Regions from separate parts of the Homo sapiens genome. Here all the other regions are linked to region 3. The links come from fine-mapping of genetic effects on gene expression. A gene starts in region 3. Each other region holds a variant in brackets. All regions are shown on one strand. Distances are between the middles of the regions.

What was found. PIP is the estimated chance that this variant, and not a neighbour inherited with it, causes the effect.
Region 1: its variant is the best candidate, but not a certain one, in a credible set for the expression of NAGK in breast (GTEx, PIP 0.67).
Region 2: its variant is the best candidate, but not a certain one, in a credible set for the expression of NAGK in pancreas (GTEx, PIP 0.56).

What each region holds. Positions count from the first base shown.
Region 1 is chr2:70,969,795-70,974,034 of GRCh38, reverse strand. It overlaps LOC105374795 (a long non-coding RNA gene), which reads left to right. Exons shown (of 2, transcript XR_001739534.2): 2 at 1-1,306. Among named protein-coding and RNA genes, the nearest start is that of ANKRD53, 6.7 kb to the left of the region's middle. The variant T/A (reference allele first, on the strand shown) is at 1,616.
Region 2 is chr2:71,087,435-71,091,674 of GRCh38, reverse strand. No RefSeq gene overlaps it. Among named protein-coding and RNA genes, the nearest start is that of NAGK, 21 kb to the right of the region's middle. RefSeq lists an enhancer at 530-1,119. The variant T/A (reference allele first, on the strand shown) is at 2,351.
Region 3 is chr2:71,066,344-71,070,574 of GRCh38, reverse strand. It overlaps NAGK (N-acetylglucosamine kinase), which reads right to left and starts at 1,927. Exons shown (of 10, transcript NM_017567.6): 1 at 1,863-1,927; 2 at 1-73. The coding sequence starts at 1,891. RefSeq lists a silencer at 1,642-1,701.

The DNA.
Region 1 (4,240 bases), 97 kb after region 3:
AACAATAGTGGATTTGAACTTGCAGAAGAAACGATCAGCAAACTTGAAGATAGGCAGTAGAGATTATGCAATCCAAAGAACAAAGAGAAAAAAGAATGAAGGAAAACAGAGCCTCAAAAAAAGTCGGGGGGCACCATTAGGCACACCAACATACTCATAATGGGAATTCCAGAAGGAGAGATGAGAGAAAAGAGCAGAGAAAGTAATTGAAGAAGCAATGGCTGAAAATTAGCCAAGTTTGATGAAAAAGATTAATCTACACATTTAAGAAAGCTCAGCAAACTCCAAGTAAGTTAAACACAAATATATCCACACCTAAGCTCATCATACTAAAAATGCTGAGAGACAAAGTTTTCAAAGCAGCAAGAGAAAAAGAACAAATCACATTCAAGGGAACCTCAATAAGATCAATAGCTGAATTCTCATCAGAAACAATGGAGGCCAAAAGGTAATGGGTAACATATTCAAAATGCTGAACAAAAAACAACTCTCAAGAATTTTATATCCAGAAAAGCTATCTTTGAAAATAAAGGCAAAATAAAGACATTGCCTGACAAACAAAAACTCAGAAAATTTGTTGCTAGCATCCCTGCCTTACAAGAATTACTAATGGAAGTTCTTCAGACTAGAAGTAAGTGACCCCACACCATAATCTGAATCTTCACAAAATAAAAACAAAACAAATCCAAAGAGCACTGGTAAAGATGACTATGTAATTACAAAAACAATATAAATGCATATTTCTTCTCCTTCTCTTAACTGACTTAAAAATAAATTGTATAAAACAACATATATGATTGTATTGTTGGGCCTATAATGTATAGAAGTGTAATCTATTTGACAATAACAACAAAAATGAGGTGGGTGGGAGCAAATCTGTATTGGAATAAAGACATAACAGCAGATGGTAACTCATACCCGTGAGAACAAATAACAAGAACCAGAAATAGTATAGAAGATTAATATAATATACTCTATAAATATATATTTACTATCCTTCTCAGCTTCTTTAAATGATATAAAACTATACAAGGCAATATTATAACAATGTATTATTTGCATATTATATATGCGCTATGTATAACAATAGTACAAAAAGTTAGAAAAGGGAATTGAGTAATAGAAGAATAATGTTTCAGTATCTCACTGGAATTAAGTTAGTATAAATCTGAAATAGATTCTGATAAGCTAAAATGAATAGAGTAAGCTCTAGAGTAACCACTAAGAAAACAACTGAAAAAAATAGAATGGAAAATGATTGAAGGAATTAAAATGTTACATAATAAAATATTCACTTAATGCAAAAGAAAGATTAAAGGAGAAACAGAGGAATGAAAAAGACATGACATATACAGAAAATGAAAAGTGATGAAGTCAGAAATAAATAAAACAAAAAGAAAAGAAAAGTAAAATGACAGATGTATATACTACCATATCAGTAATAACACTCAGTCAGACTGGATAAAAGTCAATATTCAACTATATGCTGTCTATGGGAGACATTTTATTTTTTATTTATTTATATTTTTTGTAGTGATAGGGTCTTACTATGTTGCCCAGGCTGATCTCAAACTACTAGCTTCAAGTGATTCTCCCACCTTGGCCTCCAAAAGTG[T/A]TGAGATTACAGGCATGAGCCACTGCACCCAGCCCAGAAGACACTTTAGATTCAAAGACACAGGTAGGTTGAAAAGGAAATAGATATATTATGCAAACAGTAAACATAAGAAAGATGAAGTGGCTACACTAATGTCAGACAAAATAGACTTGAACATCAAAACAAAATAAAACCCACAATCAAAGTATGTTACTAGAGATAAAGGAGGACATTTTATAATGAAAACAGGGTCAATCCATCAGAAAGATATAACAATTATAAACATATAAGCACCTAACACCAGAGTCCAAAAATATAGGAAGTAAAAACTGACAGAATTGAAAGAAAAAATAGACAATTCAACAATAATAATTGAAGACGTCAATATCCCACTTTCAGTAATGGATAGAATAAGTACCCAGAAGTACAACAAGGAAGTAGAAGTCTTGAACAATACTATCAACCAACTAAACCTGAAAGACATCTGTTGTACTCTTCATCCAACAACAGCAGAGTATACATTCCTCTCAAGTGCGCGTGAAACATTCTGTAGAATAGACAATATGCTGGACCATAAAACAAGACCCGATAAGTTTAAAATAATTGAAACGTTCTCTGACCACATGGGAATGAAATTAGAAATGAGTAAGAAATTAACTTGAGAAATTCACGAATCCGTGGAAATTAAACAATTCACTCCTAAATAACAAATAGGTCAAAGAAGAAGCCACAAGGAAAATTAGAGACTGCTTTGAGATTGATGAAAATAACAGGGAAAATTAACTAAACTCAAAGTCGGTTTTTATTTTTTATTTATTTATTTTTTTGAGACAGGATCTCACTCTGTCACCCAGGCTGGAGTATAATGGCACAATCTTGGCTCACTGCAGCCTCAACCTCCCAGGCTCAAGTGATCCTCCCACCTCAGCCTCCTCAGTAGCTAGGACTACAGGAACATACCACCATGCCCAGCTAATTTTGTTTAATTTTTTGTAGAAATAAGGTCTCACTATGTTGCCCAGGCTGGTCTCGAACTCCTGGGCTCAAGTGATCCTTCCACCTCGTCCTCCCAAAGTGATGGGATTACAGACATGAGCCACCATGCCTGGCCTCAAAGTTGGTTTTTAAAAAAGGTCAACAAATTTGGCAAACTTGAAGAAATAAGACCTAGTGTTTGATAGATCAGTAGGGTGACTATGGTTTACAACAATCTATTGTACATTTCAAAATATCCAGGAGAGGATAATTTGAGTGTTTCTAGCATAAAGACAAGACAAATATTTAAGGTGATGAATGTCCCAAGTGCGCTGATTTGATCTTTAAAAATTATGTGAATCTATTAAATTATCACATGTACTCTGGAATTATCTACATCTATTATGCATCAGTAAAATAATTATTTTTTAAAAATTGGCAAACCTTTAGCTAGACTGACCAAAAAAAAGAGAGAAGACTAAATTTATTAAAATAAGAGATGAAGGGGGACATTACTATGTACTTTACAGAAATAAAAAGGAGTACAAGGGTATATTATGAACAATTACTTGCCAACAATTTAGATAACTTAGATAACAAGGGAAAAAAATCCCATAATAACACAGCCTACCAAAATGGACTCAGGAAGAAATGGAAAATCTGAATAGACATATAATAATTAAAGATAATCAGTTAGTAGTAGTAGTAGTTAGTAGTAAAAACTGCCGACAGAGAAAAGTCCAAGTCCAGATGTTTGGTGAATTTTACCAAACATTTAAAGAAGAATTAATACAAATTATTCACAAAGTCTTCCCAAAATATAAACGAAAAATGAACAATTTCAACTCATTCTATTAGGCTAGTATTACCCTGCTACTAAAATCAGACAAAGACATCACAAGAAAAAAAAATTACAGACCAATATCTCTTGTGTATATAGATGCAAAAATCCTCCATAAAACACTAGCAAATAATATCCAATAACATATTAAGAAAGATTGTGCACCATGACAAAGGGAACTTATCCCAAGAATATAGGTTTGGTTTGATATCTGAAAATCAATATAATGCACTATATCAATGGAATAAAGGATAAAAAACCACGATCATCTCAGTAGCCAAAAAAAGATCATTTGACAAAATTCTACACCTCTTATTATAAAGCACTCAACAAACTTGGAATAGATTGAACTTCCTCAACTTGATAAAGGAAATCTATGAAAAACCCACAGCTAACATCACGCTTAATGGTGAACAGCTGAATGACTTCCCTTTAAGATCAGGAACAAGACAATGGTGTCCACTCTTGCCACCTCTATTTAACACTGTGCTAGAGGTTCTAGCCAGGGAAATTAGGTAAGGAAATGAAATGAAAGGCATCCAGATTCAAAAGGAATAAGTAATACTATCTCTATAGATTACATGATCTTGTATACTGAAAACCCTAAGGAATTCATTTAAAAACGATTCAAAGTAATAAATTAGTCAGCAAGATTACAGAATACAAGATCAATATCAAAAATCATTTGTATTTCTATACACTAGCAATGAGCAATCTGAAAATGGAATTATGAAAACAATCCCATTTACAATGGCATCAAAAAGCATAACATACTTAGAAATAAATTTAAGAGAAGAACAAAACTTATTCCCTGAAAATTACAAAACTTA
Region 2 (4,240 bases), 21 kb before region 3:
ACCCACCAGAAGGAAGAAACTCCAAACACATCCGAACATTGGAAGGAATAAACTCCAGACGCGCCACCTTAAGAGCTGTAACACTCACCGTGAGGGTCCGCGGCTTCATTCTTGAAGTCAGTGAGACCAAGAACCCACCAATTCTGGACACAATGTCATAAATTTTACCCACTGCATTGGCCCATTTAGGCTGCCCAAACAAAATACCATAAACTGGGTACCTTATAAAAAAACAAATTTCTCAGTTCTGGAGGCTGGGCCGATTTGGTGTTTGGTGAAGGTTAGCTTCCTTCTAGCTGGTGCTTTCTCCTTGGATAGTAGCTTCTCCCTGCATCCTCATATGGTGGAAGGGGCAAGGCAGCTCTCTGAGGCTTCTTTTATAGGAAAACTGATCTCATTCATGAAGACTCCATCAATCTTCCTGGGCTCAAGCTATCCTTTTAGCCCAGCCTCCTGAGTAGCTGGAACAACAGGTATGCACCATCAGGCAGAGCTAATTTTTTTTTAAATTTAAATTTCTTGTAGAGACTGGATCTTGCTGTGTTTCCCAGGCTGTTCATAAATTCTTGTGCTCAAGTGATCCTCTCACCTCAGCCTCCCAAATTGCTGGGATTATAGGCTGGGTGTGGTGGGCCACCTCAGCCTGGGGTCTCTTTAATTAAGGTTATAATGCTAACTGACAGGCCTCTGAGCCCAAGCCAAGCCATCGCATCCCCTGTGACTTGCACGTATACGCCCAGATGGCCTGAAGTAACCGAAGAATCACAAAAGAAGTGAATATGCCCTGCCCCAACTTAACTGATGACATGCCACCACAAAAGAAGTGTAATTGGCCAGTCCTTGCCTTAAGTGATGACATTACCTTGTGAAAGTCCTTTTCCTGGCTCATCCTGGCTCAAAAAACACCCCCACTGAGCACCTTGTGACCCCCACTCCTGCCCACCAGAGAACAAACCCCCTTTGAGTGTAGTTTTCCTTTACCTACCCAAATCCTATAAAACGGCTCCACCCTTATCTCCCTTCGCTGACTCTCTTTTCGGACTCAGCCCGCCTGCACCCAGGTGAAATAAACAGCCATGTTGCTCACACAAAGCCTGTTTGGTGGTCTCTTCACACGGACGCGCATGAAATTTGGTGCCGTGACTCGGAACAGGGGACCTCCCTTGGGAGATCAATCCCCCATCCTCCTGCTCTTTGCTCCATGAGAAAGATCCACATACGACCTCAGGTCCTCAGACCGACCAGCCCAAGAACATCTCACCAATTTCAAATTCGGTAAGTGGCCTCATCTTACTCTCTTCTCCAACCTCTCTCACTGTCCCTCAACCACTTTGTCCTTTCCACTCTTCAATCTCTCCCTTCTTTTAATTTCAATTCCTTTCATTTTCTGGGAGAGACAAAGGAAACACGTTTTATTCGTGGACCCAAAACTCCGGCGCCGGTCACGGATTGGGAAGGCAGCCTTCCCCTGGTGTTTAATCATTGCAGGGACGCCTCTCTGATCATTCAGCCACGTTTCAAGGGTGTCAGACCACGCAGGGACGCCTGCCTTGGTCCTTCATCCTTAGCGGCAAGTCCCGCTTTTCTGGGGAAGGGGCAAGTACCTCAACCCCTTCTCTCCATGTCTCTACCCCTTCTCTGCTTTTCTGGGAGAGGGGCAAGTACCCCTCAACCTCTTCTCTCCTTGTCTCTACCCCTTCTCTGCTTTCCTGGGGCAGGGGCAAGTACCCCTCAACCTCTTCTCCTTCGCCCTTAGCGGCAAGTCCCGCTTTCCTGGGGCAGGGGCAAGTACCCCTCAACCCCTTCTCCTTCACCCTTAGCGGCAAGTCCCGCTTTCCTGGGGCAGGGGCAAGTACCCCTCAACCTCTTCTCCTTCGCCCTTAGCGGCAAGTCCCGCTTTCCTAGGGGGCAAGAACCCCCCAATCGCTTATTTCCACGCCCCAACCTCTTATCTCTGCGCCCCAACCTCTTATCTCTGCACCCCAATCGCTTATTTCCATGCCCCAACCTCTTATCTCTGCGCCCCAATCCCTTATTTCTGCGCCCCAACCTCTTATCTCTGCGCCCCAATCCCTTATTTCCGTACCCCAACACTTTCTCTGCTTTTCTGGAGGGCAAGAAACCCCCACCCCTTCTCCGTGACTCTACTCTTTTCTCTGGGCTTGCCTCCTTCACTGTGGGCAAGCTTCCACCTTCCATTCCTCCTTCTTCTCCCTTAGCCTGTATTCTTAAGAACTTAAAACCTCTTCAATTCTCACCTGACCTAAAACCTTATTTTCTTCTGCAATGCCGCTTGACCCCAATACAAACTCGACAGTAGTTCCAAATAGCCAGAAAATGGCACTTTGAA[T/A]TTTTCCATCCTGCAAGATCTAAATAATTCTTGTCGTAAAATAGGCAAACGGTCTGAGGTGCCTGACGTCCAGGCATTCTTTTACACATCAGTCCCTTCCTAGTCTCTGTGCCCAGTGCAACTCATCCCAAATCTTCCCTCTTTCCCTCCCGCCTGTCCCCTCAGTACCAACCCCAAGCGTCGCTGAGTCTTTCTAATCTTCCTTTTCTACAGACCCATCTGACCTCTCCCCTCCTCGCCAGGCCGAGCTAGGTCCCAATTCTTCCTCAGCCTCTGCTCCTCCACCCTATAATCCTTTTATCACCTCCCCTTCTCACACCTGGTCGGGCTTACAGTTTCGTTCCGTGACTAGCCCTCCCCCACCTGCCCAGCAATTTACTCTTAAAAAGGTGGCTGGAGCCAAAGGCATAATCAAGGTTAATGCTCCTTTTTCTTTATCCCAAATCAGATAGCGTTTAGGGTCTTTTTCATCAAATATAAAAATCCAGCCCAGTTCATGGCTCGTTTGACAGCAACCCTGAGACGCTTTACAGCCCTAGACCCTAAAAGGTCAAAAGGCCATCTTATTCTCAATATACATTTTATTACCCAATATGCTCCTGACATTAAATAAAACTCCAAAAATTAAATTCCGGCCCTCAAACTCCACAACAGGATTTAATTAACCTTGCCTTCAAGGCGTACAATAATAGAAAAAAGTTGCAATTCCTTGCCTCCACTGTGAGACAAATCCCAGCCACATCTCCAGCACACAAGAACTTCCAAATGCCTGAACCGCAGTGGCCAGGCGTTCCTCCAGAACCTTCTCCCCCAGGAGTTTGCTGCAAGTGCCAGAAATGTGGCCACCAGGCCAAGGAATGCCTGCAGCCCAGGATTGTTCCTAAGCCGTGTCCCATCTGTGCGGGACCCCACTGGAAATCGGACTGTCCAACTCACCTGGCAGCCACTCCCAGAGTCCCTGGAACTCTGGCCCAAGGCTCTCTGACTCCTTCCCAGATCTTCTTGGCTTAGCGGCTGAAGACTGACGCTGCCCGATCGCCTCGGAAGCCCCCTAGACCATCACGGACGACAAGCTTCGGGTAACTCTCACAGTGGAAGGTAAGTCTGTCCCCTTCTTAATCAATACGGAGGCTACCCACTCCACATTACCTTCTTTTCAAGGGCCTGTTTCCTTTGCCTCCATAACTGTTGTGGGTATTGACGGCCAGGCTTCTAAACATCTTAAAACTCCCCAACTCTGGTGCCAACTTAGACAATACTCTTTTAAGCACTCCTTTTTAGTTATCCCCACCTGCCCAGTTCCCTTATTAGGCTGAGACATTTTAACCTAATTATCTGCTTCCCTGACTATTCCTGGACCATAGCCGCATCTCACTGATGCCCTTCTTCCCAATCCAAAGCCTCCTTTGCGTCCTCCTCTTGTATTCCCCCATCTTAACCCACAAGTATAAGATACCTCTACTCCCTCCTTGGCGACCGATCATGCTCCCCTTACCATCTCATTAAAACCTAATCACCCTTACCCCGCTCAATGCCAATATCCCATCCCACAGCATGCTTTGAAAGGATTAAAGCCTGTTATCACTTGCCTGCTACAGCTTGGCCTTTTAAAGCCTATAAACTCTCCTTACCATTCCCTCATTTCACCTGTCCTAAAACCAGACAAGGCTTACAAGTTAGTTCAGAATCTGCGCCTTATCAACCAAATTGTTCTGCCTATCCACCCCGTGGTGCCAAACCCATATACTCTCCTATCCTCAATACCTCCCTCTACTACCTGTTATTCTGTTCTGGATCTCAAACATGCTTTCTTTACTATTCCTTTGCACCCTTCGTCCCAGCCTCTCTTTGCCTTCACTTAGACTGACCCTGACACCCATTAGGCTCAGC
Region 3 (4,231 bases):
GCTCAGTCCATCTGCTTCTGCCAGGATCTTCCCATCCTCTGAGACTAAAAGGACCTCGGATCGTGTGCCTCCCCTACAGAACACAAGAGGGCACTTGATCTTGCTCGGAAAAACCCACAGAGAGAGCTAAGCTTGTGCTGTCCACACTGGCAGAGCCCAGTATGATGGAGGAGACAGCTTCGACAAACTCAATCACCACTCCCAAACCCGCCTCTGTGGTTCAGTGTTTGAGTGCTCTTTAACTGAAACATAATTCTCACTCCTCTTCCCTTGGGGATGTCCTCCTTATCCTGCAAGACTCTACTTACGCTTCACCTAGTCCTCGAAACCTTTTCTGAGGTGTGGCCCACCCCAACGAATTAGTTAAGTCTCCGTTAGTTAAACCTTCATAGTGCCTCCAAAGTTATTAAAGTCTCCTCTGTATGAAGTGTGTGTTCAGACGCTTTGTGTCCGCCTCTCACTAGACTTCAAGCTCCACTGGGTCAAGCTCCTGATCACTTACTTACCCTCTCAGAACGAGCACAGGAGCTGGCACAGGCAATGCTCAGCAAACACTCCTAAGAAAAATGGCACATCTCTCTGCTTCCCTCACAATAGCTAAAGACTGCATTTCAAGATCCAGCTGCCAAGGTCTTCAAGACACCTTTGCTAGAAATGCTGACCAGATGGCAGGGTGACTTCATACATACTTAAGCAACTAAACCTTCAAATGTTGATTACTGGGGGTCACAGTAGTTCACAGGGAGATCTGTGGTGATGGGATATATGTTTCTTTATTGATCATTACTTTTAGGAATGGCAGAAGAAGACACTGAAGACCGCTCATCAAACTCAAAGAGGACATGAAATTTCAAGGGGGTAGTTAATACATGAGGTGGCAGATTCCACATCCAAAAGCATGTCTTGACGAACTGGAAGAAACGGGTCATATCTTACAGATGACTATAACAAGGATGAATGCAGACTCCTATACTGTTTTTTTTAAGTGCTACAAATACAGGATGGGAAAGATCATTCCTAACAATTCATGTGAAAAGACTTTGGGGTCTGTGAATCAGCAGTGGGGTGTGGCTGCCAGAGAAGTGAAAACAATCACAGATTCGAAAGTACAGTGCCCTGGCTGAGAGGCCAGCGACCCCCATTATTCCCTGATTTGACAAACTCAGATTCACAGAATGTTGCCACTGGCAGGGACATAGCGATCTTATTTATCCCTATCCTCACTTTGCACATACGGTAACTGTAGCCCAGGGAGGGTAAATATCTTGTCCATGGTCATACCCAGGGGCAGAGCTATTACAAAAAGTTCAGTAAACAAGCTTCTGAGCAGAAAAATGCAATCTAGTGAAAGCAGCATGGAAGGCCAACAGGGATGGAGCGGTTTTCAGACATCAGGACAACCTAGTACTCTGGCTCGCAGCTGCTCCAGCTCCCGGATAACCTCAGCCAAGATCTTTGTCCCGCTTCTCCCCACTCCCACTCCCCACCCTGCCCGCGCTCAGCAATTTCACACCTGACACCTGTTCTGCAAAACTCTGTCCGAGGTCAGGAATAGGAAAAAGGAGCTGCTTCTCCAGCTGAAGACAGCGGAGTGGGTGTTTCGTGGAAGAAAGGGGCGTGGTTCCGCCAAGAAACACAAAGGATCCCCAACCCGGGGTGTGGCTGTTGCACAGGCAGAGTCCCCGTAAGGCATACAGCTGTGCGCTCCAGGGCGCCCCTGCGCGTGCACACACCTCTTCACCGCAAGGTCCCGCCGCCCAAAGTGCCCGGACGCCGAGGATCAAGGCCACCAGCTTGCCAGGCTGGCCACGGCCTTCCGCCCCGCCTTCGGGCCCAGGCTCCCTCCGCCGGGCCGCACTCACCCCTCTACACCCCCATAGATCGCGGCCATGCTGCTGCTACCGTCGCTGCTGGTCCCGCCGTTTGCGTCTCTCCCCGCCTGACACCTCCTTCCCTCCAGCTGTCTGGGCACCGCCCCACTTCCCGTGACCTCCCGCGCAGCCAGCTGACTCCCTGTGCGCGTGCGCATGCGCGGGGCGGGGCGCCGGTAGGAGCCGGGGATGGCTGCGTCCCTCAGGCTGTCTTCCTTCTGGTGTCTCCTCCAGGTGGAGCGACTGCGGTCCGCAGCGGCCCCTCCCGTCCTCCTGGATCCTGCTTCCAGAGATGGACACTAATCCCAAGAGGAGGAATCAAAGAGGGGTATCTAGGTCGGTCGGACCCTTAGGACACATCACTGACCTGCCTGCCTGTAAACGCCCGGAAGTTGCTGGCAGTCCCGCGTTAGGTTGCGCGTGCGCACTGCTCTTGGCCGCGTAGGTTGTGACGCATGCTCGGCCAGACCCCCGCGAAGCTGTGGGCTCAGGGACCTGCGCCCATGGACCTGTAACAGAAATTACTGTAATGTTCTACTGAACATCTGCCACGCGATGGCGAGTCACACGGGCACACACGAACACTCGCTCAGATTGTTGCCCTGCGCTCGTGTGAATGTACGGATCCGGGAGGAATTGGGACCTAAACAGACAAGCCCTCGAGGCGGTCCCGGCAGCCCTGAGGAGGGAGCCTTCACCTCTTCCTACCCACCCAGTTTACTTCTTGTGGAGGATATTTGCAGGGACATAGCCCACTGGGAGAACTAGCAGATACGGCTTTACAAGTTTTTTATTGCCTTTCAGCCCCCATTCCGCTCCCCTTCCTTGCGCTGCGTCGGGAAAGGGAATGGGATCCCTAGGGGTGCAAATACAGGCCAAGTCAGGGAGAGCTGTGGCTCCTGAGGGCCTCCTCTGGCTCCTCCGGGAAGTTTTGGGCCCTCAAGGAGCAGCTTCGCGGGCCAGGAGGGCGGTTAGCTGCCCTTGGCATCTTTTTGGGGAAATCAGTTGGCCTGTCGCGGGTCGAACTCTGTCCCCCTTGACTGCCTGCCATCTTCTGGAGAAACCCCTAATAGGCTGCTGTGTCTGGTTATGCTTTAGTGAGAAAATTAGGCTTTTTAAGCTTTCTCATTTCCTACCCTACCACGTTGTAATTCACAAAAGTAAAAAGTAAATCACTACATGATAGACTCTGTATCATGTATTCATTTATAGAATATATATCATATATTCTATATCAGATGGAGAATATAATAGAGGGTAGGATTTTTTTATGCCTGCCTATGGCATTTTTTTAATTCACAGCACTTTAGAGCTGGAAGATTATCCAACATACACATTTTTAGAATTACAGTTAGTAGATTGTGGTGCAATTAAACTGGGCAGGATTTTTGGAGACTAGATTGTAGGTGGATTTTGAAATAATTGTTTCTGTCCTGTACTACTGCAATGAGCCATGGGACGTATGTGTATAAATATTAAGTTTGTCTTTGTATTGCTTGTTTAGGCAAGCAAGCAAAAGGGAAAGTGCCCAGGTTTAAGACAAGAATTGAGTTCACCATTTACTAGCTGGATGAGCTTGGGTGACTTACAGGTAATTGCTGCAGCCTCTCCTCTACAAAATGGAAATGATAAACATCTACCTGCTGGGGCTGACGCAAGATTTAAATGCCAAAAGAGTTTTGGAAACCATAAAGTACTTCACAGATCTTAACTAACTTGTATTTACATTACCAATTAGTGTGTGCTGTCCTGCACAGTATCCATATGTGAATACTGAGCACTTGAAATGTGGTTAGTCCAAAATGAGATGTCCCGTCAATGTAGAATACACACAGGATTTCAAAGACTTACTACAAAAAAAGAGTGTAAGATACCTCATTAGTCACTATTATATGAATCACATGTTGAAATAACATTCTGGATGTAGTAGATCAAGATTATAGATTACTAAATTTTGCCAATCTATTATATTTTTTAGTGTCACTACTAGAATATTTAAAATTTTGACCTACATATTTCTGTTGTACAACCCTGTTGTCTCTATCTGGACCATAATATTTCAAAGTCACTGAATGCCTATTTATGAAATAAATAATGGCCATATAATTGATTTAAAGAAGAAAGTAGCCGGGCGTGGTGGCTCATTCCTGTAATCCCAGCACTTTGGGAGGCCGAGGGGGTGGATCACCCAAGATCAGGAGTTCAAGACCAGCCTGGCCAACAGGGCGAGACCCTGTCTCTACTAAAAATACAAAAGTTAGTTGGGCGTGGTGACAGGCGCCTGTAATCCCAGCTACTTGGGAGGCTGAGGCAGGAGAATCACTTGAACCCAGGAGGTGGAGGTTGTGGTGAGCCAAGAT